Homo sapiens: one gene and its partners. The protein of the gene in region 2 purifies or fractionates together with the protein of the main gene of each other region. This does not show direct contact. Each region holds a gene or a part of one and is shown on either strand. Other genes may lie near its edges. The genes, in order: MAP3K7, MALT1, QKI, USP9X and CYLD.

What was found.
Region 1: the proteins of MALT1 (region 2) and MAP3K7 purify together in Homo sapiens (affinity purification with western blotting; 2 studies listed by BioGRID and IntAct, with this or other methods). This does not show direct contact.
Region 3: the proteins of MALT1 (region 2) and QKI purify together in Homo sapiens (co-immunoprecipitation; one study listed by IntAct). This does not show direct contact.
Region 4: the proteins of MALT1 (region 2) and USP9X purify together in Homo sapiens (affinity purification with western blotting, with the first as the bait; one study listed by BioGRID). This does not show direct contact.
Region 5: the proteins of MALT1 (region 2) and CYLD purify together in Homo sapiens (affinity purification with western blotting, with the first as the bait; one study listed by BioGRID). This does not show direct contact.

What each region holds. Positions count from the first base shown.
Region 1 is NC_000006.12:90,552,478-90,556,409, forward strand, and holds part of MAP3K7 (mitogen-activated protein kinase kinase kinase 7), read right to left. Parts: intron 1,110-3,932; coding exon 981-1,109; intron 1-980. UniProt on the Homo sapiens protein: Serine/threonine kinase which acts as an essential component of the MAP kinase signal transduction pathway. Plays an important role in the cascades of cellular responses evoked by changes in the environment.
Region 2 is NC_000018.10:58,733,257-58,738,312, reverse strand, and holds part of MALT1 (mucosa-associated lymphoid tissue lymphoma translocation protein 1), read right to left. Parts: intron 4,917-5,056; coding exon 4,739-4,916; intron 4,432-4,738; exon of another isoform or gene 4,333-4,431; intron 4,007-4,332; coding exon 3,932-4,006; exon of another isoform or gene 3,926-3,931; intron 3,112-3,925; coding exon 2,984-3,111; intron 1-2,983. UniProt on the Homo sapiens protein: Protease that enhances BCL10-induced activation: acts via formation of CBM complexes that channel adaptive and innate immune signaling downstream of CARD domain-containing proteins (CARD9, CARD11 and CARD14) to activate NF-kappa-B and MAP kinase p38 pathways which stimulate expression of genes encoding pro-inflammatory cytokines and chemokines.
Region 3 is NC_000006.12:163,557,718-163,562,773, reverse strand, and holds part of QKI (KH domain-containing RNA-binding protein QKI), read right to left. Parts: intron 793-5,056; coding exon 705-792; intron 1-704. UniProt on the Homo sapiens protein: RNA reader protein, which recognizes and binds specific RNAs, thereby regulating RNA metabolic processes, such as pre-mRNA splicing, circular RNA (circRNA) formation, mRNA export, mRNA stability and/or translation.
Region 4 is NC_000023.11:41,168,252-41,173,307, forward strand, and holds part of USP9X (ubiquitin carboxyl-terminal hydrolase 9X), read left to right. Parts: intron 1-1,743; coding exon 1,744-1,984; intron 1,985-2,218; coding exon 2,219-2,368; intron 2,369-3,586; coding exon 3,587-3,707; intron 3,708-5,056.
Region 5 is NC_000016.10:50,782,718-50,787,773, reverse strand, and holds part of CYLD (ubiquitin carboxyl-terminal hydrolase CYLD), read right to left. Parts: intron 3,916-5,056; exon of another isoform or gene 3,585-3,915; intron 3,446-3,584; coding exon 3,323-3,445; intron 936-3,322; coding exon of another isoform or gene 920-935; coding exon 828-919; intron 1-827. UniProt on the Homo sapiens protein: Deubiquitinase that specifically cleaves 'Lys-63'- and linear 'Met-1'-linked polyubiquitin chains and is involved in NF-kappa-B activation and TNF-alpha-induced necroptosis.

The DNA of each region.
Region 1 (3,932 bases), on a different chromosome or scaffold from region 2:
TATAGGAAACTGGTAAAAACAGCTAAGATTACTCAGATGATGGTACTGTTTGATAAATCTATGAATGACCTAAATAATTAGGCAGACATTTGTTTTTAGACTTGTGGAATAATGTAAAAAATGGCCATTAGTCACATGATTATAAACAAGGCATAGAAATGAAATAACTAAGAGTGGCGCTAAAATTAAGAAGGTAAGTAATTTTCCTTCATGAAAAGCTATTTTCCCAAGCAAATGTAAAGTAACTTTACTAATGAAGAGGATGCATTCTAACATCATATGTGGTTAAAAACAACATTACCAGAACTATAAAAGAAACAGGACAGATGCAAGGACATTGAGTCCATAAGTCAATATGACTTAAGATATGAGCATTCAAGTCAGAAGCATCTGGATTTGAATCCCAGCTCTACCACTTACTAATCTTGTGACCTTAAGCAAGTTATTTAACCTCTCTAGGCCTCAGTTTCCTAATCTGTAAAATGAGGCAACAGTACTCACCTTCTAAGGGTGGGTGAGAATATAAACAGGAAAAATATGTGAAGCATTATTATTCTTTGCTTCTTCTCCTTGATGAGGCCCTTGCTTCTTCAGGAGAAAAGGGCTATAACTCTCCAGTTATATTAACCATGTCAGAGATTTTATGTATGTATTTTTTTATTTTTTCCATGATCCAGCCTGATGCTTCTCCCTAAGAGAGAGCCAACTGTCTAGGTTGCGTACTGATGGCCTTTCCCTAATCAGCGGAGCCAGTGAACATCCTCAGCCGCATGTGTAGACCAGGACTACTCTCAATCCTGCTCTGCTGGACTCTGGGGCAGGGACAGGGCAGAGTCTGATAATAGCAAAGCAGTCTCTTAACAAAGAATTGTACATTTTAATGTTAGAGATAAATGATATTCTTTAGGGAAGGGGACAGGAGTAGTCTTCCAAGTAGAAAACACAAAAAGTACTTTTAAGAAAAATTTCTTTTTACGAACCATTATGAACAGCCCACATGATTCGGAAAGCTGGGCCACCAATCTCATCAAAGGGTTTCCGACGCGTTATCACTTCCCAAAGAATAATACCCCAGCTGAAGACGTCACATTTTTCACTGTAATTACTACCTAGAAAAAAAAAAGGTAGTATATAACCTAAAGACTATTTTTCCACATGACTTACAGAAACAATGGCTTAAATTTTGAGAATGGGTATCAGGGATAAAAATGAGGCTGTCACATGTAGAACTAAGAAACTACTCTTTCTGAAGTACTTTGTCTTTTCAACAAGTACATTTTTAAATGAATTAAGTATCAACAATACACTAAAAAACTACTTCAGAAACTCAGTTATTTTCTATCTTTTTTCATCAAGAGGCAGTTTTTTCATCAAGAGGCACAGGACTTGACTTTTATGTATTTAGACTGATACTTTCTCTGGGGCAGAGTATGAAACATCTGTACATTCCTTTATGTTGTTTATTATTATTTTATTCTGAGACAGGATCTCACACTCTCATCCAGGCTGGAGCTCAGTGTAGCCTCAAACTCTTGGGCTCAAGTGATCCTCCTGAGTAGCTGGGGCTACAGGCATGCGCTGGCACAACTGGTTAATTTTTTAAATTTTTTGTAGAGATGGGGTCTTGCCATGTTGCCCAGGCTGGTCTCAAACTCCTGGGCTCAACTGATCCTCCTGCTCTGGCCTCCCGAGGCGCTGGGATCACAGGCATGAGCCATTGTGCCTGGCCTCCTTTCTGTTACATTTTAATCTTAAATTTTCTTCCCACTCTGACAGACAGCACTACTCTGCTATCAAAGCAGAAGAACTTTCTAATTTAGTGTTACAGTTTTTTCCTCAATATATGGTGAAGGGAAATTCTTAATTTATAAACTTAAACATTACGTTGTAAGTAACGAAAATTATGGATAACCTGAGTTACACAGCAAAATTTACAAACTAAGTAGGTGGTTGAATCAGCCAGCACAATAAGCACCCGTCATAATCTCCCAAAAACAAACAAACACTCAACTCACTGTAAGAATGAACAATTATTATAGCTATAGCTTTACATGCTAAGCAGTACACTGTAATATAGCACTACAACCATGCTACAGTCTAATTTGGGCTACAGGTTGACTGACATCTTTCAGAAATGAAGAAACTTACACAGCCTAACAGTCTGCATTTTGTTGCTCTAGACAATTAAGGGTTGTCTAGAGCAATAAAATTAATCTTTTGTATAAACAAATCTTTTTGCTCTCCACATACAGTAACATTGGGTCATTTTAACTCACATAAAGGTATATTAAATAAGTAAATAATTTTAAAACAATGTCAAATGTATACATTCTGTATATGAAACAGGAGGCATTATTTAATCTTGTGTAATATAACACCTGATTATTCATTTATTACTAAATTGAATTTTAGGGCAAAAGAGCTCCACTCAGGTGACTAGTTGCATTGCAATTTCTCTTCCTCTGGGGTGGCTAAAAACAAACAGAAAACCCTTTAAAGTCATCAAAACTGAAAGAAATAAGCTATAACCAGAGTCTGATTAACTGAATGTATCTGAATTTTATGGGCATTTACACTTCCTAACATACAAATCACATACCTTCAGTTCAACTTCTTTCATTTAAAAGATAATTTGATGTTTTTATACAGAAACCTAGCATATAATTTACAGACAACTCTTTTAAAACTTCAGTGACATATGGAGGTATAAAAGAAGGTAAACATATAAGCTTGACATTTATTTGTAATTCTTAGTATCTTATTTCTGTCCAATTACTTGCATTCTTTTTTTTTTTTGAGATGGAGTCTTGCTCTGTCACCCAGGCTGGAGTGCAGTGGCACGATCTCGGCTCACTGCATGCTCCGCCTCCCGGGTTCACACCATTCTCCTGCCTCAGCCTCCCGAGTAGCTGGGACTACGGGCGCCCGCCACCACGCCCGGCGAATTTTTTGTAGTTTTAGTAGAGATGGGGTTTCACCGTGTTATACAGGATGGTCTCGATCTCCTGACCTCATGATCCGCCCACCTCAGCCTCCCAAAGTGCTGAGATTACAGGCCTGAGCCACCGCGCCCAGCTATTTGCATTCTTTTTAAGGCATCCTCATTTAAACTTTAGGGCTCTCAATTTTTAATTGCTAGGAAACCAATACAAAAGCACAGTTAATTCTCATTATTCCTGGTATTTATGTTCTATAAAGTTTCTGAGAACACTGAATTAGTGAACACTGAATCACTGCTCCTAAGGAAAATACAGGGGTAGGTTCCTGTGTGCCTCTGGTCACCATGTTTTTGTCAACTGATCAATATATAGCCTTGTTTCATGCGTATTTCTGCTTAAAGACACCTTATTCATATATACTGTTGATTTATTACCATTGAACTCATAGTCAACATTTCTGTAACTCATGCCTGAATGAAGATAATTTAACATATGTATATTGTCTGTTAAGATACATCATAGCCTTCTTGTACTTAGGCAGTACTATGCTTGAGGGCCATTTTAAGTAGCAAAATTACCAACAAAAATCACAAAAATGAAAAAGGGCTCTGAACAGCACAAAAAAGGACACCTGCTTACAGCATGAGAGCTGAAACAAGACGGAAAAACGTTGTCTTGTTCAACCTCAGCTGGAAGCATGCGTTAGATGACTCAAAATTTGCACTGCTCAGCGCATGCACACTGTCTGCGAGTACATGAAAGCACTGTCTGCAAATAACCATGAAAGCACCATGAGTATTAATTTTGGGGTTACAAATAAATGTTAGCAAATAGGCAATTTTGCAATTAAGAAATTGGTGAACAATGAGGATCAACTGTACATATGCTTAGAAGCATAGAAGATTTAAATCTTACTATAAAATTTAGGATATAACACTATATTTAATATCCCCTTAGATTTCATTGTATACTTTATGTATTATGCAGAAATAA
Region 2 (5,056 bases):
CAACAATAGGGATCAATCTTAGCAACATAATATTAACCAAAAAAATCTAGTCCCAAAAGACTACATAGAGCATAATACCTTTTTATGAAGTTAAAAACAAAACTACGCATACTTTTTTGGGTATATATAAACTCAATAAAACTATGTAAAACGAAAAAGGAATAAGTTTAGAATGGTAGTTATCATGGAGTGGGGGAAGGGAGAAGAGGGGTCCTATAATTAGATGTAGGTTACTTCAAGGTCCTATATTCATATCGAACATCTACTCACAATGAAAACCTTCAGTAGTATGTTCAACACTTCTAATAATAATGCTGTCCTGAATAGTACAAAAATAAAAGTCACGTTACAGATTGATGGCTGTAGCATTATAACAACCAATTTACCTCATATTTTGTTTTCCTTGCACACAGTTGAAATTGGTAAGGTGGGCCGGGCGTGGTGGCTCACGTCTGTAATCCCAGAACTTTGGGAGGCTGAGGCCGGTGGATCACTTGAGGCCAGGAGTTCGAGACAGGCCTGGCCAACATGGCGAAACCCTATCTCTACCAAAAATACAAAAATTAGCCGGACGTGGTGGTGTGTGCCTTTAGTCCCAGCTACTTGGGAGGCTGCGGCAAGAGGATCACTTGAACCTGGGAGGTGGACGTTGCAGTAAGCCAAGATCATGCCACTGCACTCTAGCCTGCGCGACAGAGACTCTGTAGTCTCACACAAAGAAACCAAAAAATTAAAAAAAGAAATTGGTAACATGTTTATTTTCCCCTTCAACTGCTTGGCTTATAATCTGTGAATACTTTTCTCCCTCTGGAATTTTCTTTTTTTTTTTTTTTGAGATGGGGCTTGCTCTGTCACACATGCTGGAGAGCAGTGGTGTGGTCATACTTACTACAGTCTCAAACTGCCAGGCTCGAGCAATCCTCCCACCTAAGTCTCGCGAGTAGCTGGCACTGCAGGTGCACACCATAATGCCTGGCTAATTTTTTAAATTTTTATAGAGATGGGGGGTCTGACAATGTTGCCTAGGTTGGTCTCAAACTTCTGTGTTCAAGTGATTCTCCTGCCTCAGCCTCCCCAAATGCTGGGATTACAGGCATGAGCCACTGTACCTGGCCCCAAATAATTTTTTTTTTAAATTGAGATGGGGTCTTGCTGTGTTGCCCAGACTGGTCTTGAATTCCTGGGCTCAAGCAATCCTCCTACCTCAGCCTCCCAAAGTGCTGGGATTACAGGTGTGAGCCACCATGCCCAGCCATGGAATGAGTTTCAATTAAGTAATCTGGAAGATCCAAAGGGAGAAACAGCAAAGTTTTGTTTCAAAATTGGATGACTTGTGAAAAATTTCATACAACTACTTTTGCTCTTTACTACTAAGACAGGGGTCAGACACAAAGCATCCAAAACTCAAAATAAGGGCTAGATTTAACTGTATTATTTATCATGATACTATTAGGCCTTTACTTATTTTGTACAATGAGTGGGCCGTTACCCACGAAGGGCACAATGTGCACGGCACTGAGCTGAGTGTGCTCCATGTACACTACAGGGTCTTCCTGCCTGGGCAATTCTGGTTAAGCAGACATGGTAGGACTGAAAAAGATCAGCGAAAAGCAAAACTGTCTAAGATGTTTATAAGAAGTTCAAATATCCTCACAGCACATATCGGGATGCCATTCATTGCTATGACAATTTGGTAAATATCATATGTGAGTGAGCATGGTGCTTTTTATTAAGTTTTAAAATAGTTAAAATGGACTTAAAAACGAAATTGAAATAAAACACTGTAGAGTTTCTGGAGCACCTTACTGGATCTCAGTTTGAATATAACTGACATAATCCAAAGGTTTTCTTTCTTTCTTTTTTTTTTTTTAAAGCAGCAGAGCCTTTCCTTCAAATGTAAGCTTCAGAAGAAGCCTAATGTAGAAAACAAATAAAAGTGGAACTTCTCTGGATGAAGCGGGAGGGTGGCAGGAAGTCCAAAGCCCTGGCTGGTTATGTTAAATGGAAAAGTGGCTAAGTCAAGTGATCTAAAATAGCTACACAGATAAAAACATGAAAATAAATATGGCTGACAGTTGGTCAAACACCTTATACCCAAACTGCCATCACTGGAACATCCATGAAACTCCATTTTCTAGTGGTGCTAGTTTGTAAAATAATTTCTTCTTTTTTATTTTTATTTTTTATTTTGAAGACAGGGTCTCGCTATGTTGCCTAGGCTGGTCTTGAACTCTTGGCCTTAAGTGATCCTCCTGCCTCAGCTTCCCAAAGTGCTGGGATTACAGGCTTGAGCCACCATACCTGGCCAAGTTACCTTCTTTTTGCTATGGCTTATAAAATGTTTTTTCAAAAAACACAGTGCAATCTACTGAAATAATAGGTACTTGTTCAGCATCTGACATATGCACAGCATTATACCAGCAGGCAGGGAGAACAGATAGAAATGGAAGATGTGGCATTAGACCCCCTAGGATCACATCCTTAAATCAGGATTTAAAAACTACTAAGTTCATCAGGGAAAAAAATGAACTCAGCTTTTCCCAGCAGTGTCTAAAAATTTCTGTAAAGTTTTCTCTCTCCCATCCTGGGAGAGACTGCTCACTGGACAATTCCCCACCACCCCTCCATGCCACCCACCCACCCTCAAATAGGGAGATTTGCCAGTACCAAGGCACTGGGCATAGAAGCAAAGTAGAGCTCTGAGAATTCAACTTTATTAATGACTGTGCCGAGGCTTAGCCTTGTAGTCTGAGTAATGCTGCACAGATGGTGGAGAGCTAGGTCAAAAGGGAAGGAAAGATGACATTAAATAGCAGAAGTGTTGCTGAACGTTATATTAATATAAAAATTGTTTTATAAAGTAGGTACTAATTCCAAACCCACATAATAAGAATAAAACAATCACCAGAGAGGGAACCCTGAATAGGTGTGTCTCCCCTGCTCTCCTTTTTCTGAGTACTTTTCTCTTTATTTTTTATTTTACCTTCTGCAACTTCATCCAGTAACACAGTGATTTTCTTATCTTCTAATAATCTGTCTTTTAAAAATTTCATAAAGATTCCATTTGCCAATCCAGAATGCTGGATTTCAAAAGCTTCTGCTCCTTGACACCTTAAAAATAGAAAAAGAAGTTAAGCCAGGCACAGAAAGGCAAATACTGTATGTTCTCACTTATATGTGGATGCTAATAAAAATGAACTCAGAGAAGCACCCAGCAGAATGGTGGTTACCAGAGGCTGGGGGGGGGTGGGGACAGCGTGGGGACTGTTAGTCACAGGGTACAATGTTTCAGTTAGGAAAAAAGATAAGTATTTGAGGTGATATGTGAATTATCTTGATTCAATCATTCCACATTGAATACGTACATCATAGCATATCTTTGTATCCCATAAATACATACAATTATAACTTGTCAATATCCAATAAAAATAATTTTTTAAAAAGAAAATGTTAGAAAAGCAAACACTTGCCACATGGGACTTCTGTATACACCAATAAGCTTCATTTTCTCTTCTGCCTCTCACATGACATTGATAATTAAAGAGTTAATCTTTAAGCAGGAATTACATGCCCAATTTGGGCTTAATAATTAAGATACCATGATATGGAATGCTAAAGTCGATCATTTAAAATTTTCTACGCAGAATATCAAGGAGGTAAATTTATGCCTACATGTCTATAGGTATTTTCTAGGCCTCTAATCTATAATCAAAAAACCCTCAGGGGCCAGGCACAGTGGCACATGCCTGTAATCCCAGCGACTCAGAAGGCTGAGGCAGGAGGATCGCTTGAGCCCAGGAGCAGTGAGCTATGATGGCGCCTCTGCACTCCAGCCTGGGTGACAGAGTTAAGACCCCTGCTCCTAAAAAGCAAAAACAAAAAGACATCAAACAATAAAGGAAACTTCAACGTAAACATCAAATGTTCTTACGTGGCATATCCAAACACAATATTGGCGGTGACTTTTAGTGCATCCAAGATTGGAATGGTATCATCGTAGTCATTTCTATTTAAGGGAGGCGGAGGAGGGCAGATAGAAATATGAAAAGTTAAAGAGCATTCTTAAAAGGGTATAAATAATGAGAAAATACAACAGTTTTTTAGAATACATAATTTAAAATTATAGATTCAAAATTTTTCATCTAGGTAGCTACATATCTACCCAAAATAACCCACTAACTCCTTGTTAGCTTTAAAACTAGAGTTGCATTTGAACTCTGGCATTGGATTTTGATTGGTAAATGCTGAGCAAGCAAAAAAATAGTAAATCTAGAGGAACAGTCATTGGTTCTACTCCTTAGAAAGGCAATGGCAGACAAATGGGATCCAAACCTCCAAACATCTGCTTCGGCTACTCATTCCATGTCTGGAAGACCAGGACTGACTAGTGAGCAGAGATCCCAACTCCATGGGTGTTGGTTTTGTTAATTCCTGAGGGAATAACTATAGTGATTATTAAAGTCATCTAAAGGCATTCTGGAGAGTTGAATCCCCTGTAGTGTGAGTAAATGCCCATGCCCTTTAGTTCTTCATTTGTGTTCTATAGCAAATATGAAGAGTTAAAATAATTAGATATACATGGAGTAAATGTATTTTCCTCTAGTTTTGTTCTTCCAGTTTCAATGTATAAACTAAAATTCACAAACGCAAATGGCTTTTAGCATTTCACAGGTTTCTCTAGTTTGTCATGGTCGATATTTAACTCCAACAATTCTTTAATAAAGATTAGAAAACTTACCTTTTCCTACACATATCCAATAAGAACACATTAAGTCCAGTTTCTTTTTCTTGCATCAATTTCAGTATATTTTGTACACACAGACAATTTTCAGACCTATATGGATTTGGAGCATCAACGGGGACCATGAAGCTGTTCCCAAAATTTTCATAACCATGTCCTGCATAATATAATAACCCTGAAAAGAGGAAAAATAAGAGAGAGATAGATGTCAATTCTAAATGCACTCTGAACATACAGACTGCATAACTTTTTGTAGAAAAACCTTGACTTTAATTTTCTTCAGGTTGATGTGAGCATATGTAAGAAATACCCAAT
Region 3 (5,056 bases), on a different chromosome or scaffold from region 2:
GGCTAGAACTTAAAAATTCTATGTGTTTTAAATAATCAGTAATTTAAACATGGTATGTTCATATAAATGACATGTATGAATCTTAAATTGTTTCAAAATATAAATTTCACATTATTTCATTTTAAACATAAAAAAGCTATCCTCTTACGGCTTATAAAAACATGCATAGATACGCATAAAAACAAAAATAGGACGGAAAAAGAGTTATCACCCACTGATCTCTGTGAACTCACATATGAAATCAACAGGGAAAAATACTAGAGGGAAAACATGCAAGCAAAGTGAAAGGACAGAACTCAACAGAGGGTCATTTCAGTCAGATACACTTCAAATTCACTTTTTCAAAATAAGCTTTCAATATGTTGTCTTTTGCATAAATTTAACAAGATAAGCTGCAAGCCCTACATCTGTAGTTAACCAAACAGAAAATTTCTTAAACACTTGAATTTAGAGATTGTGATTTTGTTAAAATAATGTAAGTTTATCAACCTAAAACTTCAACATGCTGACATAAAATAAAATCAAGAGTGTCCTCAATTCATGAAAGCATTAAAAATAGGACTGTCAGCCCCATATCAAGTGACAGAACAGTTATTTCAACTGTTCACTTTGTATGAACTATTATTGTGTTGCCAAAAGGAAAAAAGTCTGTAGACAAAACAACGCAGACAGCAGTAACCCTGGGCCTCAGAGCTCATTCTTACGTGATTTAATGTTGGCATCTCTGTAGGTGCCATTCAGAATCGCAAGCTCCATCAGCTGCATCTTCTTCAGGCTGTCTTCTCCTTCTGCCTATACATGGAAAACACATGAGATGAAAGCATTTGAGACTGTCCACAAATATAATAGCTATATCTACACACAAGCCTTAAAGTAAGTATCATGTGACTACAGTCACCTGTTTTAATAAGGGGAAAAAAAGATCAAGAACCAAAAGGTGCTAACATAATGGAGCCTGCTTTCTCTGTTTTCTCAGTAAAGGCATGTTGATATACAGCATATTGTATTTGTAAATTTTTTGTCAGTTACACCGATTTATTAAAGTTCCCCTAAAAAGCTTTACTTTTAAATAGAAATGAATGAAAATGTGAGATAAGACTAAACATAACATATTCTCTTCAGCATCTATCATTTTAAAATTACTTTAATTAATTTTATTGTTTTTAGATACAGGGTCTTGCTCTGTTACCCAGGCTGGAGTGCTGTGGCATGATCCTAGCTCACAGCCACCTTGAATTCCTAGGTTCGAGCCATCCTCCTACCTCAGCCTCCGAAGTAGCTGCGACTAGAGGCACGCGCCACCATGCCTGGCTAATTTTTTTTATTTTTTGTAGAGACAAGGTCTCGTTTTGTAGCCCAGGCTGGTCTCAAACTCCTGGCTTCAAGTGATCCTCCTGCTTCAGCCTCCCAAAGTGCTAAGTTTACAAGTGTGAGCCACTGCACCCAGCCAGCAACTATCATTTTGCTGAATATTCCAAAACTCAAATGTGTTCGTTAAACACACACATACACACACGCGCGTGCACATGTGCACACAAATAATTTTAAACATACAAGATTTGATTACAGAATTTAGGTAAGGAAATTTTATGCTTAATTCTTCAAAATATGAAAACTCAGTGAAATAATAACTTCTAAAAAACCGTATATTCTGCTCTCTTACACCACCATCCCTGTCTCCTTTCAATCTAATTAGCAAGTGCTATCAATGCTACAGCAATCTATCTTTAGGGTCACCATATGATTTATTGTCCAAAGCAGAAAACTTTTAAAAGCAAAAATGGGCACTAATAATAACCATGCTTCAAACCTAAATCAGGATAGTCTCTAATCATCAAAATGTTTGGCCACCCCATTTACCTTGAATTGGTCCCACTCTTTCCATTTACTGTTCCAGTTGTTTTTGGCATAGCACCCAAACTACTAAAACATGTTGCTAATGGTGTCTGTTCTCCAATCAATCTCTACACAAAGGCCAGATTAATTGCCCAAATCACAATTTTCATCATGTTTCTCAACATTCTGTCTCAAAACACTTTCATGGTTTCTTACTATCTAAAAATATAAAAAACTTTAGTTGCCTATAATCTGGTCCCAAAATATCCTCTCAAGTTAAGCCCATTAACCTACTACTTTACACACGTATGTAAGTAACATCTTAAGTCAAACCAGATTGCTCTCCACCATTCATCTCTGTGCATATTCCCACTTCCTCCATCCTAAGTGCTCCCCTGCGCACTCTCTGCCCCTCTCTCTTTCCAAATCCTACCTATCCCCATCCCCACAAACTTCAACCTAAATGCTACCTTCCTTCTCCAGGGGCCATCCCTAGATTACAGTAGATCCTCACTTAATGTGGTCAATACATTCTTTAAAACTAACTTTAAGTGAAACGACAGACAGCAGGTCCTCAAATAATGCCACTGCTTTCAACATGGTTTCATTATAACATTGATGAAAAAAGAGGCTGCAATATACTCATTTTGTTTAAAGTTGTATCTCCAAGAACCTATCGACAAAGTTAATTGCTTCTACTTCAAATTACAGTCTGTTGAGTATCACCACTCCCAAAGTAAGCTCCATGAGAATAGGGCTTATTTCTTTGTTACCACTGCCTAACCCCATGTTCCCACGGCCACCCCCAAGTTACTTACTAGAACTTATAAGTGACTGGTATGAGAAGTCTTTAACTTTATTTCCAAATCCCAAATGTCTCAGTCCAACATAAACTTTAGCCACAGTCAAAGCAAGCAGTAGATGAGGGTCCATCTATCAAAGTCTGTGTAGAGATAGAACTAACTGCCCCCCACTTTTATGTATCATCGAATCCCAGTAACTTTACATGACTTTGTGATATTTACAATGAAAGTAACACAATGCAACAATTTTCTGACATAGTCTTGTTCCTCTCTGATTCATAAAACGGGAAGGACGACCAGGACACAGGCTTCTCAGTGCTCCTTTCTATTATAGCTGTAATGACACACAAAATTCTGTTTTTGGCATTACAATGGTGAATGGTATACTATAATATATAGTAAACAGAACTGTTCAGTGAGCTTTTAGTAAATCACAAGAATTAAAGAAAAATATGAGTGAAACATAAAGACAATGTTTTGATGTGCTACTGCCAACTTTTTAAAAACCTACTTTGCAGAAGATTACAGGGAGTGGATACTGGCATGCCTGTAGAATTTGACTCCTATCAACTTGTACAAAGATGAACAAAAAGTAAGTATGATCTTAGAAAGACACAGAAATTATTTGTTAAAAACGAAATAAGTAAGCTACTATTGGAAAAGAAGAATCAAATCCATTATAATAAAACTTCAACTTATTTGCTAAAAACTAGTCATTTGAAAATTAAAACTTATCAAAAGTTTCAAATTTAAATTTATATATAAAAATGGAATACCAAAAGTATTATAAATTATACTCTACATAAAAAAAGAAAAAGAAGAGCAGTAGGTTTACCTCCAGTCATCTACCATAGCGAGAAAGAAGTGGTACAAGTTTGAAAATGTCAGCAAATAAGAGGGCAAATTTACTTCCAACAAAGAGGAAATAAAGACGAAAGACGAGTTTCCTGCAGAAGGGCAGGTGCTTGAAAACATGTTGGCACTGAACTGCTCCTTTTGGATAGCAAAATAGCTATTCATTATTTGGCAATGGAGTGTCAAACAAGGGAGAAAACCACAGAGAAAAAAGATGGAAGAAATGTGTGTGATTACCACTGTGTGTGCACACTTGTGTAATGTGCAGGGTGCAGGATAATGAAAACAGGAGAGATCACCCTAAGAGAATAAAAATAAGAGTGGCATAGGAGGAGATCCTGGTGTAGTCTGCCATATGGTGTTGCTGGAGGTGATGGTATGTTACACCAGATCACAGCCACATTTTGGCAGGGTACACTAATGCCTCCCAGAAATGCACAGGATTTAGTTGGCAGAGCTGGAATTTGATTCTAGGTGGTCTCAGTCCAGGATGGGCTTCACCCTCATGTCCTGACCACTCCCCTCCACTCTGTATTCACAGGGCATGATCTTGTGTGTCTTAAGAGACAACAGGGTTCACTGGCCGGGTGTGGTGGCTCACGCCTGTAATCCCAACACTTTGGGAGGCTGAGGTGGGCAGATCATGAAGATTAGGAGTTCGAGACCAGCCTGGCCAACATGGTGAAACTCTGTCTCTACTAAAAATACAAAAATTAGCTGGGCGTGGTGGCAGGTGCCTGTAATCCCAGCTACTTAGGAGGCTGAGGAAAGAGAATCGCTTGAACTTGGAAGGCGGAGGTTGCAGTGAGTCGACATCGCGCCGTTGCACTCCAGCCTAGGCAACAGGGCGAGACTGTCTCAAAAAAAAAAAAAAAGAAAAAGAAAAAAAAAGAAGAGACAACAGGGTTAATTATAGAATTACTTTCACATCGAAGTGGTTATTTCAATGTTACTGTCCTGGTTTTGACAATGAGATTTGGTAGTACGTACCTGCCTAAACACTGTTGAAGGTATATATCACCTCTTTTTCAAATATAAGTTCAGATGAGAAAACTAAGTTTCTTCTACAGTCTAGAGGCTCTAGAGCTTCTATGAGCCAGTCTTCAGACCAGTTTTTCTGACCTCTTTTTTTCTCAAAAATTACAACTGATCAAACAGGGCATCCTGAAGTTGTACATGTCAACTCCAGATAGTTCACAAAGTATCCTGCAGAACCTTGATCGGGAATGAGCAACTCTACAGAGACAGAACACTAACTTTTACATTTGTAAAATGGGTCATTAAAATCATATTTTGTAATACTGAACTCAAGTGATTATCCGCAATCTCATAGCTTCTGGTTTCCTAAGTATTTGCCCTATATTCAAGAATCATTTAAAAAATGGAAGCAAAATTCACATGCAGTGGACTCCCAAGATCTTAAGTGCAATATCCAGTCACGATATTTCTTTTTTTTTTTTTAAGTTTTTGTGGGCACACAGTAGGTGTATGTATATATAAAGTACATGTGATATTTTGATACAGGCATATAATGCATATTAATCACATCAGGGTAAATGGAG
Region 4 (5,056 bases), on a different chromosome or scaffold from region 2:
TTAATTATTTGATATTTTCCTAGCCATTTGGTAAAAGGAGAGCAGAAATTTTTCTCGTTTGAAAATTGTTGTCTTTGCCCATTAAAAACATTTTCATTTCATCTAATTTTTTTTAATAACCTCCCCCACTCTCCCATCTGGTTTTGTTTTGGTTTTTTGGGTGAGGCATTCTTAAGTTGTTTTCTAGTTTTCTTTTTGTCTTTGACATTATTACTCATTAAGTGTTGCAGTGGCATTTTGCAGTTGAAGTGTTTTTGTTTATTTGTTTATTTTGAGAAAAGGTCTTATTCTGTCACCCAGGCTGGAATGCCGAGGTGTAATCATGGCTCACTGCGGGCTCAAGCGACCTTTCCACCTCAGCCTCCCAGGTAGCTGGGGCTACAGGCACAGGCTACCACACCTGGCTAATTTTTTTTGACTTTTTGTGGAGGTGGGGTTTCACTACATTGCCCAGGCTGGTTTCAAACTCCTACGCTCAAGCAAATCCTCCTGCTTTGGCCTCCCAAAGTGCTGGGATTATAGGCGTGAGCTACAGTGCCTGGCCTGTAAAGAGCTCTTAAAAGCTGCCTTGCATGGCATATAACAAATATTTTCAAATGGTGTTTATAGTTTTGGGATGTTTTGTGTAGTCAATGCCATCATTTTTTTTAAAGAGTTTTGTTTATTAATCATGAAATTATATACAGTTGCTTCTTGAATATGATTTTTATTTTGTATTTTACTTTAAAAAAGGTACTATACCAATATAAATAGCATTTTGGAGTGAATTTTGATATGAAGGCTTTTTTCCAGAAAAAAAATAAAGTGCATTGTGGCATTTTTGTTGATGCTTTTAACAAAATGTAAAACGACCTTTTAAATGTAAAAGGTAAACTCTACCTTCTTTTTTTGAATTTTTTTTTTTATTAATACAAGGTCTACCTATGTTGTCGAGGCTGGTCTTGAACTCCTGGGCTCAAGGGATCTTCTTTGCTTGGCCTCCCAAAGTGGTAGGATTACAGGCATGAGCCACTGCGTCCAGCCAACCTTTTACATTTAAAAATAGTCTTAGTGAGTTGGGCTTTTACAGCATAAAAATAAGCGTTATATCTTGGATTTAATTTCATTTTAGTAGACACCTCATTTTCTGCAACCATAGATACAAGACTAACAACAATAGAATATGATTATGTTTTTAAATATTATTTATATTTTTAGTTAAAAGGAGCAATATTTTTTTTTCTTTTGCATTTCACTCTTGTTGCCCAGGCTGGAGTGCAGTGGTGCAGTCTCGGATCACTGCAACCTTTGCCTCCCAGGTTCAAGCGATTCTCCAGCCTCAGCCTCCCAAGTAGCTGGGATTACAGGCGCCCACCACCAAGCCTGGCTTATTTTCTGTATTTTTAGTAGAGATGGAGTTTTACCATGTTGGCCAGGCTGATCTCGAACTACTGACCTCAAGTGATCCACCCGCCTCGGCCTCCCAAAGTGCTGGGATTATAGGCATGAGGCACCATGCCTGGCCTTATTTTCAAGATACTGAAAGTAATACAGGTTGAGTATCCCTAATCCAAGAAATCCAAAATTTGTCTGGTCCCAGACATTTCATATAAGGGATTCTCAAGCTGTATTAAGTATCTTTAATTCACATCCTCTTGTTTAATAAGAAAATACTTAGTGTTAAATCCCCAGCATTATTTTCTTGGCAACAAAATTTCAGAGTCTGCTGAATATGATGATGTCTGTCTTTCTTTTTCCCCCCAGAGCATTCCGCGGTAAACACCTCTCTTTTGTAGTTCGATTTCCAAACCAGGGCAGACAGGTTGATGACTTGGAGGTATGGTCTCATACAAATGATACAATTGGTTCAGTACGACGATGTATTCTCAATCGTATTAAAGCCAACGTAGCCCATACAAAAATTGAGCTCTTTGTGGGCGGTGAGCTGATAGATCCTGCAGATGATAGAAAGTTGATTGGACAATTAAACTTAAAAGATAAATCGGTATGTATGTATAGTTAACAGATTTTTCAATAAAATCAAACCAGAGACTATCGTTTAATCAGTAAATACTAATTGAGCATTTGTTATGTTTGGGACTGTGTTAGGTGTTAGAGTTATAGCATTAAAGTATAGCATGTAGTCTTTCGGATTTTTTGGTTGGTATATCACTAAGTTTTGTGTTTTGTGTAAGTATTTTTCCTTGTTTTTGATATTAACATAGTATATAATTTTCAGCTTATTACAGCCAAACTTACACAGATAAGTTCCAATATGCCTTCAAGCCCTGATAGCTCTTCTGATTCCTCCACTGGATCTCCTGGAAACCATGGTAATCATTACAGTGATGGTCCCAATCCAGAAGTGGAAAGCTGTTTGCCTGGAGTGGTGAGTAGATACAGTTTTGAACTACTGTATGTAAGGCATCATGCTAGGGTTTTTGAGAATAAAGTATATAGAGTGGTTCTTTCTTTTCTTGAGGAGCTTACAGTTTAATGAGACAAAAAAATACAGTTAACCACCAACTTCAGAATGGATCCCTCTAAAAGGTAATTGTAACACAGTTGGAATTTAAAACATAATTTCCCCATAGGTATAGTATTGTTACTTTTACATAAAATTAACCAATTAGAGCTTAATTATAACACTATTGGATGTATAAATTTAGAGGAAAACAGTCATCCCTCGTATACGTGGAGAATTGGTTCCAGGACCTCTGCATATACCCAAAATGCTGCAGATGACCCTGTGCAACCAGATATACAAAAAGTTAGCCTTCCATATACTTGGGTTTTGCTTGCTGGAAATACTGAATTTTCTGTCCACATTTGATTGGGAAAAAAGTCTGCATGTAAATGGACCTGTGCAGTTCAAACTTGTGTTGTTCAAGAGTCAGCTGTATCACTTTCTAAAATTTATACCACAAAACGGATAGTTCTTTTAGAACTATATATGAGCTGGGCATGGTGGCTCACACCTGTAATTCCAGCTACTGGGGAGGCTGTGAGGCAGGAGGATTGCTTGAGCCCAGGAGTTCTAGGCTGCAGTGAGCTGCGATTGTGCCATTATGCTCTAGCCTGGTCAACAGAGTGAGACCCCATCTCTAAAAATATAAATAAATGAAAACAAGAACTATGTAGGAAAATACCTGTAATCTTTATCAGATTGTCAGTAACATATAGCCAAAGAAATATTTTTAAGCTCTCCTTTCGCCCCTCCCGACAGAAATTTTAATGGTTACAATAGTAGCAGCCACTCCAGTGTCAGGAGGATTTGGCTCTCTATAACAACTGGATTAAGAATTTGGTAGTGGGCATGGCAGCCTTTTGTTATGTCCAGAGTCTAAATTGTATATATGAGAGAAATGGTTTAATAGAACAGGAGAGGAGCTATCACAAAAAAATGACTGGAAGTGACTTGATGATGTATTTGATCTGCACTATTAAGGATTTGTAGGGATTAAAAGATGGGAAAGTCAGACTATTTCAAAGAGTAGAAATTTCATAAGTAAAAGTATAGGGATTAACACAGAGAAACTTACTTGGGCTTTTATAAAACGGGAGTAAATAATTTAGAGGTAATTATTTTGTGTATTTTATATTCTAGATAATGTCACTGCATCCCAGATACATCTCTTTTCTTTGGCAAGTTGCAGACTTAGGTAGCAGCCTAAATATGCCACCCCTTAGAGATGGAGCAAGAGTACTTATGAAACTTATGCCGCCAGGTAAGAATTTTTAAATGATGATCAAGTACTTGCTGGACAATAAAGGAGTATATTAGCAAATTCTGTTTCTAAATGGACCGTGCTTTTTGGTATAGACTATAACAAGAGTTGACAGATGACAGCCCACAAGCCACATCAAGCCCCCTGCTTGTTTTTGTGCATCCCAAGAGCTATATTTTTAAGTGGCTACAAAAAAAAAATCTAGAAGAATAATATTTTGTGATACATGAAAATTATATGAAGTTTAAATTTTAGTGTCCATGATCAAAACCAGGCTCATTTGTTTACATTCAGTCTACATGACTGCTTTTGTCTTAAAATAGCACCGCCCAGGAGTTGTGGCAGAGGCCATATGGTTCACAAGCCTAAACTGCTTAACTTTCCTGGCCCTTTACAGAAAATGTTTGCCTATACCTGGACTATAATATGGGTCATGTGTCATCTGCGGTATTGTTCCTTTTTTATCCTTAGAAACAACCACTTCCAACTTCTCGCTTTTACTTTAGTATATATATGTACCATTATGTCTGGAGTGTCCTCATACAGCTATTTCTTTGTTACTTACAGATATATACTGATTTTCTGCTGTGTAGATGAAAACTTAACTGTTACATACCCCCACATCCTCCCAGTATTTGCTTAAATCCAGATTCAACATCTACGTTTCCAAGATTGTTTGAAATATAGTTCTCTAGATCACTGACAACTTTTATCCTGGATTTAATAATTTCCCTTTTATTTTCCTGATTGTACACCTATCACTTATTCTTCCCACATACTTTTTTTTGAGATATTTTTTATCTGAATGTGGGCAAACTATCACGTTTGATTAATGGTTTGTGTATAGAATCCTAGGTTTGAAAATATATTCCTTCTGGCTGGTGGCATTGCTGATGAGAAGACCAAAGTCCTCTTGGTTTCTATTCCTTTGCATGTGACCTTCGTTTCTGGAAGTTTTGGTTTTATCCTTACGTTTTGAAATATTATGATGTGCCTTAGCGTTAAGTCTGTTTTGTGGTGCGTCACCTGTGGGCCTGGAGATTTCCTCAGTTGAGAGAGATTTGTATTCTTTGATAGTTTTCTCACCAGCATTTTGCGTTTTGTGTGTCTTTGAAATGTCTAAGTGTGATGGTGAATTTACTAGATCTGATTTTACCTTTTCTCTCTTCCCTTCTCTCTTTAATCTTATTCCACCTTTGGGGTGGCTTCTTTAACCTTTTCCAGCTCTTCTGTTGGCTTTTCCCCTCCAAATATTCTAGTGTTAAAATTTCAAGACCTTTGTCTCCTTAGTGATCCTTTTCCATATACAGGATTTTGTTTTTCACTAACACATTCTTGCATTTATGTTC
Region 5 (5,056 bases), on a different chromosome or scaffold from region 2:
TTAAAAATCAAATAAGTCACAGGCAAAATTTTTAAATCATTTTATTTTTCATTTCTAACAGTCAAATTTTAATACTGAATTCAGTTTCATTCATCCAATATTATTTCAATTAAAAGCACAGTTTTCAAGTTTTCCTGACAAAGGAAAAACATAAAAGACATTTAATAAGTTATAATCAAGTATTATGTTTCAATTTTGTTGTGAGTTTATTACATTTGAAAGGGTGTAACACATTGCACATAATGAAATAGCTGTTATTTCCTTTGGAGGGGTTAAGGTAAATGGAGTACAATCTGAAGTATGCTCTGTTTTTTCCTGCAAGCCTCTGAACATTACAGCTGTTTACAGTATGCTGCTGACAAATTCAAAGTCAGGTGGTGAATCTTTGAGTAAGCCCATTAGCTAGGAAGAGATTATAACACTGTTCCCTGACTATAAACTTAATCCTAGTTAGCAGCTTTCTAACTCCCTTTTACAACAGGGAAGACTCAGTGGGAAAATGTAGAAAACCCAATGCAACTCTGCACCACAAGAGAGAAACAACTGAGAATATCATTGCTAGGTGGAAAGGAAAGGACTTTTTATTTAAGCATTTAATATACTAGAACCAGCCAGCTTCTTAAAGGAGTTCATTATTCCACATCATCAATCACTTTTAGAAGAGAGGAAGAATTTACAAAAAGAGGAGCTAACCATATATCACATAAAAAGAAATTTCTAATTTAAAAGAAAACCCCCCAACTACACAGACACACATTTCAGCTAATACTTTGACATGTGAATATGCTCTTCAGTTATTTTTAACGCATATAAGTTAAGATGGTCACCTTTTTCTTCAGAGGTAAATCCTGATGCAGCCTCCACCTTTTCAAGTATTTTCCTCAGTTTCATAATTTTTGTGGCACACACATATCCATATCTAAGTTAGTAAAAAACTATTAATTGATATTGGCATGTATTAAATTATATAACACATCTTAATCACATATTTCTTTTTTTCTTTTTTTTTTTTGAGATAGAGTCTCACTCTATCACTCAGGCTGGAGTGTGCAGTGGCCCGATCTCAGCTCACTGCAACCTCCGCCTTCCAGGCTCAAGAGATTCTCATGCCTCAGCCACCAAAGTAGCTGGAATTACAGGCGTGCACCACCACATCCAGCTAATTTTTGTATTTTTAGTAGAAACAGGGTTTCACCATGTTGGCCAGGCTGCTCTTGAACTCCTGGCCTCAAGTGATCCGCCCACCTCGGCCTCCCAAAGTGCTGGGATTACAGGTGTGCGCCACCACACCTGGCCAACACATTTCTTATACAACTCCAGTATGTCATAAATCAATAGGTTAGACAATTATTTTTGAAGAAAACAATGATAAGCTTCTTCTTGAAGTTTGCAAAATTAAAGATCTAGAACCAGAATTATCCTAGACACTATTATATGCTCTACAAGTAACTGTCATACACTAAGATAAAAAATTTTTAGGTTTGCTGTGACTGATTTTTTAAATAATATTTGCTTGGGAAATTAAAGCATTTACTTTATAAAGCAGAATATACAATTTTGAGAGAGAATATCCTTTTAATACTGAAGTGTGAAACAGCCACCAAGGGAAATGGGAAAGGGAATTTATAAGAAACTGAAAATCTAAAATCTGCAATCAAACCAATTGGCATAATGATGACATTTTCTCTCTTCTTTGTCTGAATGCAAGACACATTCAATCAGTTTAATATCACTTTAAATTTGTAATTCTAAAAATGGCTTCAGAGGAGAACTTGGCGGCTACCATAAGTTTACTAAGGACAAGTCAGAACTAGCTAATTTTATATCCACTTTTTATACTATTCATTCACTCATTAGTTTCCTGCAACCAATACAGACTGAGAATCTACCACTTACATAGTAACGTAACCTGTCAGCCACTGGGAATACAAAATGAGTAAGGTTAAAAAGACAGGGTCTCTGAAGAAAAGCAGAGATTTCAGCACCAAATAAAACCAGTCAGCTATATACAGATATGAATGCTACAGACACAGGGAATCCTGATCACAACAGGGCATCTGACCAGTTTCTTACCGTGGACAGGGTAAGAAAGTGTGATTAACTATGATTCTTAACTGGCTGAACAATAGGATCCAAAGAATGTTTATTCTTCCTCTCTTCTAGGAAGGAGGTGTTAACATGCCTTAGAGTTTCGGGTTTGACCTGTCTTGTTCCAGTATCAATTACTTGGGGGAAAAAAATCGTATGTTTAAAAATTTGCATAAGACAAAATAGTTGATGTGAAAATCAAGATTCACAATTATCTTAAAGAGTAAGATCATTAGAGAAATCATTACAGAATTTAAAGAAAGCAAAAGATATAAGTGAGGAAATTTATTCTCTTATAATTTACTTTCCTAGTCATGTGATATAGCAGATAATTTGGAATCCTCATTGTATTTGAGTATTCTGCTTTTTTGGTTCAAATTTGATATCAAACTATTTTTTACTTTAATTGATAAATAAGAACAGTATATAAAAGGATTCAAATTTATCTTAATATGGACTTTAAATAAATCACTTTCTCTCTATATTCCTGAATGAACAAATTTGTTTTATGATCTATGGTCCTAATTCTTCATAGTTTAAATTTTATAATGTGACATTATCACATATCACTACTACCACTTATTCAAAGTCTTTACTAGATATCTCCTGTCACTTGTGCTTGTACCATTACAAATTGCTTCCTGTGGCCATAAAAAGACATATTTATAATTCCTAAAGTAGGAAATGGAAAAAGAATCACCTTTTTAAGGCAGGTGGAAAGAGGCCAAATATATTCCTTTAACCAAAAAATATGGTACTAAAATACATCTCATCTGTTGCTAGTCCAAAGTATTAAACACTAGCTATTCTATAAAGAATTTCCCTTTCTCCTTTTCTTTCAGATTTAAGAAGCTAGACTACACCAATTTAACTAATAAGCATGATTACTTGTAGCAGAAGTGTTGGAATAAACTATTTCAAAAGATAAGAATCCTAAGTATTATGTATTAGCTTTCCTAAACATACTGCAATTGCTAAATTATAGTTTACTCTAGCAAAATAGGTTAAATCATTTCATGGAATATGCTATGTTCTACACCTTGGCCACATTTAAGAAATTAAATAAGCAAAAAAGTACAAGGACCAAAGGTTTAAAAACGTAATATTTTACCATAAGAACTAATTTTCACCCATCTCTTATTACATGAAGACAAGGTATAAATTAATTACTATACCAGAAAACAGCAAATAGAACACCATGTAAAGGCAAAATAGCAATTTGTTTTCTACTTACATTCTCAGAGGATTAACAATTTCTGTCCTCAGTAGCTCTTGGGTTTCACTATAATATTCTACATCGTTCTTTTCTTTGGGTCTAAGTAACACAGTGTCCAGAACAGAACTAAAAGCAAATAAGCTGCAAAAGAAAAAGGATAATTTTCTTCATGCTGTAAACATATTTTTCAAGAAACAGATTTTTAACAGAATTAGAAGAGGAAAATAAGTAAAGTCTGGAGAACAAATAACATAACAATTTGTGTTTTTCATTAACACAGGTACCAGGACCCCTGTGAAGATACCCATGGTTCAATCATCAGGACCTACAGATCCTTCCATGTTAAGGACAACACCAATAATACTGAGAAAGCAAACGGCAGATTGGCAGTGTTAAAGGATAACAACGTGCCAACAGAATATTAAGAAAGAAAACTTCTTTGCAAAAGTTGATAGAGAGACTACAAATATCAGTCAAATTACAAACAGACAACAGAGGACAGCATTTGGAAACGACTTCCCGAGGCAAGCACTATTCAGTGCCCCACTTCCCTCTCCCCATGCCCCTTTGCAAAGATCTATTACATTAATAAATTTCTTTAAATGCTAAAATCACTTATGAGTGACTAACAGGCCAGGTGCGGTGGCTCATGCCTGCAATCCCAGAACTTTGGGAGGCCGAGACGGGTGAATCACCTGAGGTCAGGAGTTTGAGACCAGCCTGACCAATATGGTGAAACCCCGTCTCTACTAAAAATACAAAAATTAGCCAGGCATGATGGAGTGCACCTGAAGTCCCAGCTACTTGGGAGGCTGAGATAGGAGAATCGCTTGAACCCGGGAGGTGGAGGTTCCAGTGAGCCGAGATCACGTCACTGCATTCCAGCCTGGGCGACACAGCGAGACTCCTTCTCAAAAAAATAAACGAGTGACAGCAGTAACTTGCTGTTATCAAAGAAAAAGAAAATTTAGCTAATATAGATTTTTATCAGGAAATCTAAAGAATATTATATCAATGCTACAAGGTTTGTTTTTGTCAAAGTATTCTGCAAATAAAATGGCCGCCACTTTATTCTTCTTCCTACTTTAAAAATGTTAACATCCCATATTAACTTCCTAATTCTTATCATATGGCTACAGAACTGGCAGGCTACTCTCAATTTAGCCCAGTCTACAATCCTCAGAGCCTAAAGATTCTTGGTTCAATTTCCAGAGCTTAAAGATCCTTGCAATGTTAAGGCTGGGCGTGGTGGCTCATGCCCGTAATCCCAAGCACTTTGGGAGGCCAAGGCGGGTAGATCATTTGAGGTGAGACGTTCGAGACCAGCCTGGCCAACGTGGTGAAACCCCCGTCTCTACTGAAAATACAAAAAAGAAAGTTAGCCAGAAGTGGTGGTTCACACCTGTAATCCCAGCTACTCAGGAGGCTGAGTCAAGAGAATCGCTTGAACCTGGGAGGCAGAGGTTGCAATGAGCCCAGATTGTGCCGCTGCATTCCAGCCTGGGGGACAGAGTGAGACTCTGTCTCAAAAAAAAAAAAAAAAAAAAAAAAAATCTTAAGTTGTTCCACTTTGGAAAAAATTGCATATATGAGGGCAGCAGTGCTGCTACTGAAAATCGTTTTTTTAAAGACAGTAGTTTTATGACTGCCTTTACCTACTAAAAGAAATACAGCACATAACAGCCAATGGCTTTACTGCAAGTTATGTTGTTTGAGACATGCACAAAGATTTCCCAGATACCCTCTGTATAT